Linked DNA regions of Homo sapiens. The protein of the gene in region 2 interacts with the protein of the main gene of each other region in a biochemical or structural test. Each region holds a gene or a part of one and is shown on either strand. Other genes may lie near its edges.

Evidence for each region.
Region 1: the proteins of PRKRA (region 2) and DUS2 form a complex in vitro, tested with the Homo sapiens proteins (one study listed by BioGRID).

What each region holds. Positions count from the first base shown.
Region 1 is NC_000016.10:68,075,255-68,077,847, reverse strand, and holds part of DUS2 (tRNA-dihydrouridine(20) synthase [NAD(P)+]-like), read right to left. Parts: intron 2,494-2,593; coding exon 2,344-2,493; intron 1,217-2,343; coding exon 1,129-1,216; intron 1-1,128. UniProt on the Homo sapiens protein: Catalyzes the NADPH-dependent synthesis of dihydrouridine, a modified base found in the D-loop of most tRNAs. Specifically modifies U20 in cytoplasmic tRNAs. Activity depends on the presence of guanosine at position 19 in the tRNA substrate.
Region 2 is NC_000002.12:178,444,467-178,448,291, forward strand, and holds part of PRKRA (interferon-inducible double-stranded RNA-dependent protein kinase activator A), read right to left. Parts: intron 3,121-3,825; coding exon 3,039-3,120; coding exon of another isoform or gene 2,990-3,038; intron 1,070-2,989; exon of another isoform or gene 960-1,069; intron 35-959; coding exon 1-34. UniProt on the Homo sapiens protein: Activates EIF2AK2/PKR in the absence of double-stranded RNA (dsRNA), leading to phosphorylation of EIF2S1/EFI2-alpha and inhibition of translation and induction of apoptosis.

The DNA.
Region 1 (2,593 bases), on a different chromosome or scaffold from region 2:
AGACCAGTCCAGATGAGGCAGAGCAGCCTAAGGAAGGCATGGCTGCAAGGACCAAAGGAAGTGAAGCAAGCCTATCTCATGGTTTCCACCCCAGGGGCACCACATCTGGGGCTCAATTCTGTGCCCCATTGGCTGAGGCTTGATCCAAAAACATGTCTGGGCCAAGTGCGGTGGCTCACGCCTGTAATCCTAGCACTTTGGGAGGCCGAGGTCGGGGGATCATCTGAGGTCAGGAGTTCGAGACCAGCCTGGTGAAGATGGTGAAACCCCATCCCTACTGAAAATACAAAAAAGTTAGCCAGGTGTGGTGGTACCCACCTGTAATCCCAGCTACTCAGGAGGCTGACACAGGAGAATCACTTGAACCTGGAGGCGGAGGTTGCAGTGAGCCAAGATCATGCCACTGCACTGCAGCCTAGGCAACAGAGCGAGACTCCGTCTCAAAAAATAAATAAATAATTAAATAATTAAATAAAATTTTTAAAAAAGGCTCATGACCTATAATCCCAGCACTTTGGGAGGCTGAGGAAGGAGGACCACTTGAGCACAGGAGTTTGAGACCAGCCTGCCTGGACAACAAAGCAAGACCCCATTTATTTATTTATTTATTTATTTTGAGACAGGCTGGAGTGCAGTGGCATGATCTCAGCTAACTGCAACCTCTGCCTCCAGGTTTAAGCAGTTCTCTGCCTCAGCCTCCCAAGTAGCTGGGATTACAGGCGCCCACCACCATGTCCAGCTAATTTTTGTATTTTTAGGAAAACGGGGTTTCACCATCTTAGCCAGGCTGGTCTTGAACTCCTGACCTCGTGTTCCACCTGCCTCGGCCTCCCAAAGTTGTGGGATTACAGGCATGAGCCACCGTGCCCGGCTGAGACCACATTTCTAAAAAATAAAAAATAAAAATTAGACTCTGTTTCAAAAAAAAAAAAAAGAGAGATGTCTGGCTGAACTGGACAACAGGCCACTGTAAGAGGGGAGGGCTATCAGCAACTGACCTGGCCACCAGCAGCTTCTCCATGCCTACAGAGGTCAAGGCCAGGCTCCAGCCTGGCAATCTAGAGTTGAGGGTGTAAGCCATGGGAGTGCTGTGACTGGCTGCAGGGCAGGCCACAGCCAGGAACTCACCGTTTCATACACAGGCTGTGCCAACTTCTCCCTCCGGCACCACTCTAGTAGGCACATCTTAGGGGTGATCTGGGCTGGGTATGCTCTCCTGGGGAAAGGAAGGGAAGCAGTTGGGGTCACCCACCATCACCGCTCCCTCCCTCAGCCAGGGCACTACTCAGCTCCTGAAAGGAGCTGCAGAAATGAGAGGAACTGAGACACCGAGCTGCTGCCTTAAGGCTTCTGTACTTGCTCCCCTAGGCTCCCATTCTTGTCCTACCAGCAGCTTGGACCTGGGTTCTCCCTAAAGGGAAGATGAATTTTGGCATGCTCAAGAAATTGTAAGGGAAGGGGGAATGAACTCCCAGTACTCTGAGGTCCAGACTGGAAAAACAATGTTCAACATCCAAGAAGGAAGCTTGCCACTCAAGACAAGATTAGTAGGGAGTGGGTGGAGGTGGGCAATGGAGGTAGCCAGACAATGGTCTCGGGGATCTAGCTCAGCGCCCATCCTGATTCCGCCTGCCAAGTGTCATGATCATCTGCTGCAGCCATGGACACTTGGAATCTGGTTTCAGAGTCAGCCTGTGACAGGGTGACACAGTGACAGGGTGGGAGGGGTCATATTCCAACTTCCCAACTGGAACTCTCCCTGGCATCTGACTGCCCAACAGCTATTCCCCACCACCCTGCTCCCCCTCTCCACACCTCTGCCAGACAAGACTGGCTCCTGTCTGGTCCTGGGGACTGGAGAAAGGCTCAGATCCCAGAGGAGGGCACCATTCAAAGCTGAGTCACAATCTGAGGCGTAAGCAGCTTGAGAGAGCACCACAGAGCTGGTGAGGGGCACTGGGTGTGGGTAGGGGCTGCAGAGCCAAATGAGGGCTAGGGTCCTGCTGTTGTTTGAGGAGCTTCATGCCAGGAGCCAGTTCCTCAGGGCCTTGGAAAAGCACAGACTTTCAGGAACAGGAGACAAGTCCCCCCTGCCCTGAGTTGTGGGAGGCGGTAAATCAGGGAAAAAGTAGAGTTCAGTTATCCTTGGGACAGCCTTTCAGGGACTATCTCCCCTGAAAGCACCTTCTATGGGATGCTGAAAATTTAGAACGAGTTTCCAAACCAACAAGACCTGTGGTCCCTACGTTTGACATTAAGCACATACAGCAGCCAGTGTGCTGGCCCAGTGGGACCCCAAGGGTGCTGGCCCTAGCCCAAGCTGAGGCCAAGCTGGAGACCTACCGGTCAAACTTGACAGCCATCTTAATGACACCAGAGGTATCTTCAGCTGGCTCCCCTGTCTGCTCTGAAGTCTTGGCTGAGAGCCTGGCCTGCTGGGCATCCAGCTCCTGTGTGGTCTCCTCATAGAAGGCACCAAGGCCAAAGGCCTCACTAGGGAGGAAGAAGCAGATCAGAGCAAACACTTTAGCGGAGCCAGCATCCAGGGTACTGCAGGACCCCAGGGCCCCACCACTGAGAAACTCCTCTACCA
Region 2 (3,825 bases):
AGGGTCAGGCATTAAGGGGTCAGGAACTGCAAAGCTAAATATTTTTTAAAAGTGTTATAAAACAAAATAATTTCCCCCGAATTATGAAATAAATGACAAGCATTTTCTAATTAACTCTCTATGTCTTTGCTCTTGTCATTCCTTCTACATGGAATGCCCTTTTCTCAGACCTCTTCTATGGGAATCTGATCGGTCATCCAAGATATATCTCAAATGTCACTTCCTCCAAGAAGCCTATCCTTTTACCCCAGTGGTTTATAATCTCTCCCTTCTTTGAAACATTATAACACATGGTTTAATCCTTTCTTGAAATTGTTTTACCATAAATTATATACTCTTACAAATACATATAATTTGTCCATCCTTCACCACACCTCTCCCCTGTTCAGACAGTAAGCTCCTTGAGGTAGGGCCTATGTATCACTTACCTACATAAGCTTTGTGGTGTTTTGTACATAATAGGCATGCCATAAAAATGTATTTAAAGAATACTCTGTTACAACTATACAAAAAACAGAAGAGTAACAATGATCCAGAAAATTTAGCCTGGCAATGTGAATAATACAGATTATGTGTAAATACTGTTTTTTCATCCACAGAACTATGAAGAGAGATCTGTTTGATCTATCATCTGCTCAGTGCTGGGATAATCCTCTAAGATTTACATGTATCCTGCAGAAAATAGATGGCTTAGATGAATTTGGTTTTAGCAAGTGGGGATTATGATTAGGGAAAAAGAGAACAACCTCTTCTAGGGAGTCTGGAATTACTAGTTACTTAGCAGGTCAGTACTTAAAACTGAATAAGCGGCATTTCAAGGTTAGTACCACCTAGGCAACTGGAGTCATTTTTCCATGACAAATGAGGTTTAGTTATTGCCACTTCCTCAAGGTTTTTTTTTTCCAACTGTGAGAATTTCAAGCTTTACATAGGCTGATGAGATATGAGTATTCACTTACAATGCTGCATGCCGAAGCTACCCAAATAATTGTGATGGAGAAGTGAGAAAGTCTCTGTATTAAGTCAGGCCACTTTAGGCCTGATTACAGCTTAGTAATTCCCATTTTATCTGTCAAGAAGCACAAATATAGTAAAGTTTGTTAGCTTTTTTTGCTGACAAAGTGCCAAGATGCAGAAAGGACACTCCATACCCCTCATTTCTACAAATGTACTTAATGGTTGGGTTCACCTTCAGGCTATACAGAAACAGCATGGCCATCACCAGTGGGGGAGAACCCAATACCTGCCATGTCATTTGGCATGTCTTTTTTTTGTTTGTTTGGAGACAGAGTCTTGCTCTGTCGCCCAGGCTGGAGTGCAATGGCGCGATCCCAGCTCACTGCAACCACTGCCTACTGGGTCCAAGGAATTCTCGTGTCTCAGCCTCCCAAGCAGCTGGGATTACAGGAGCGTGCCACCACACTCGGCTAATTTTTTGTATTTTTAGTAGAGACGAGGTTTCACCATGTTGGCCAGGCTGGTCTCGAACTCCTGACTCAAGTGATCTGCCCACCTTGGCCTCCCAAAGTGCTGGGATTACAGGTGTGAGCCACCATGCCTGGCCTTGTTTTTCTTTGAGGCAGGGTTTCACAGGCTGGAGTGCAGGGGCACAATCTTAGCTTACTGCAATCTCCGCCTCCCGGGTTCAAGCGATTTTTGTGCCTCAGCCACCCAAGTAGCTGGGATTACAGGCGCCTGCCACCATGCCTGGCTAATTTTTGTATTTTTAGTAGAGACAGGGTTTTGCCATGTTGGCCAGGCTGGTCTTGAACTCCTGGCCTCAAGTGATCCACCCACCTCAGCCTCCCAAAGTGCTGGGATTACAGGCGTGAGCCACCCCGCCCAGCCTGGCATAGATCAATTATAATGCATGACCCTAGAGAATCAAGCATCATCTTGTGAAATGCAAGGCTTGTCTTGGGCAGCTGCTTATCTAGAGGGTTGCCATGTCACTGGTTAGTTCTAAACTACCCAAACGGTTTAGAATGATTTACAAAAAGAGAGGAATACTACATGAGAACCTAACTACACCCCTAATCCAAAAGCCTTTCTATGACTAGGGAACAAAAAACCCATCCCAAATTCCCTGGGTCTCTACTGTCAACTATAAGCTGATTACACAGATCGTACTTCAGGCATATGTAAGTGTATGCACAAGAAGAACTTGAAAGCATGCCAAGCTCCAGAGTGCACCCAGTGGACACTACTTTAATATGTGAGATGCTCCAGGACCAATATTCTATCTAGAAACACCTAAAGTAGTAAAAAATCTATCCCAGCACTTTGGGAGGCCGAGGCTGGCGGATCACGAGGTCAGGAGATCGAGACCATCCCGGCTAAAACGGTGAAACCCCGTCTCTACTAAAAATACAAAAAATTAGCTGGGCGTAGTGGCGGGCGCCTGTAGTCCCAGCTACTTGGGAGGCTGAGGCAGGAGAATGGCGTGAACCCGGGAGGCGGAGCTTGCAGTGAGCCGAGATCCCGCCACTGCACTCCAGACTGGGCGACAGAGCGAGACTCCGTCTCAAAAAAAAAAAAAAAAAAAAAAAAATCTTACTTTAGAAAGATATGTCAAGAATTAATATCCCACTTAACATTCTCTTCTTTTGGTATACATTATATAATAAAAGAAAACCTCTGCCTGCTTCTTCAAAATTAGAATTCCCAAAAGAGTACTTTTAGTGGATCTTTCTCCATCTCACACTTTGTTTTCTTCAATGTAGAAATAATCAAAGTCTAAATACAAAATGTTAATATTAATATTTGCAAGAAGCACTGATTTTCTACTGTTGTATCCCATTAAAAAAAAAAAAACAGTAAAGCCTAGTTCATGAGCACCTTCATTTAATAGCTAATTGCTGGATTTGATTGGATAAAGTTTTCTTTAATGGATGATAAGTTTTCATAAGGAAATAGAATTTGAGAGGTAGGATGCTAACAACTGTTCACTTTGTTGCTTTTGTAAGCATGTTCAAATTTTTAATCTTACCTCAGCCATGATATTTTTGAGCTGCTGAATACAAAGAAATTTAGCTCACCAAATACTTGCATTGGCTTTCAAAATGTTTATGGCAGCCTCTGCAGCTCTATGTTTCGCCAGCTTCTTACTTGTACCTTCACCTGAATTAAGATTTAAAAAAAGAAGTCTTTATCTCCCACAAAAATGTGCAGCTTACAAAGATGTTTTCAATACACAAAACAAAGTCACTATAGATTTTACATACACATACTAGGTAATAAAAATATGTACGTTATATACTGTACATAAAAATATGTACATGTTATATACTACATGGTTATATACTGTAATAAAATATTCACCATGTGAAAAAATTTTAAAAAATAACTTTTTAAAGTTCTATATAATTCTATGCATACCTGCATAAAAATCCTTATTTCTACATTATATATGTTTATTATATAACATGGTAATAAAGTAGACCGTGTCACACCTCTGAAGAAATGCAGATTAGTATTTTACTCTTCCTTTATTCCTGGAGGGGAAATTCTTCTGCAGCAAGAAGTTTCTTTTAAAGGAACCATTTACAGCAGAATTGTTTGATAGCAAAATGTGCATAATTTTATTCTGACAGCCTGTCCTATAACGTATCAAACTGCTTTGCTAGGCTGAGCAGTCATGATTATGTGTTGGGTACAACAGGAAAGAGTTTTATGGAATAAGGTGACAGCTTGTTATGTATCTTCTGGACGGTCTGTATCTTCTGCATGGGTAGCTAAGTTGGGACTGGGGATAAGACTGATGTCTAATTTCAGTAAGCAATCACAATGGCAAATGATAAATTCCATCTTTTTCCTTTTAAGTTC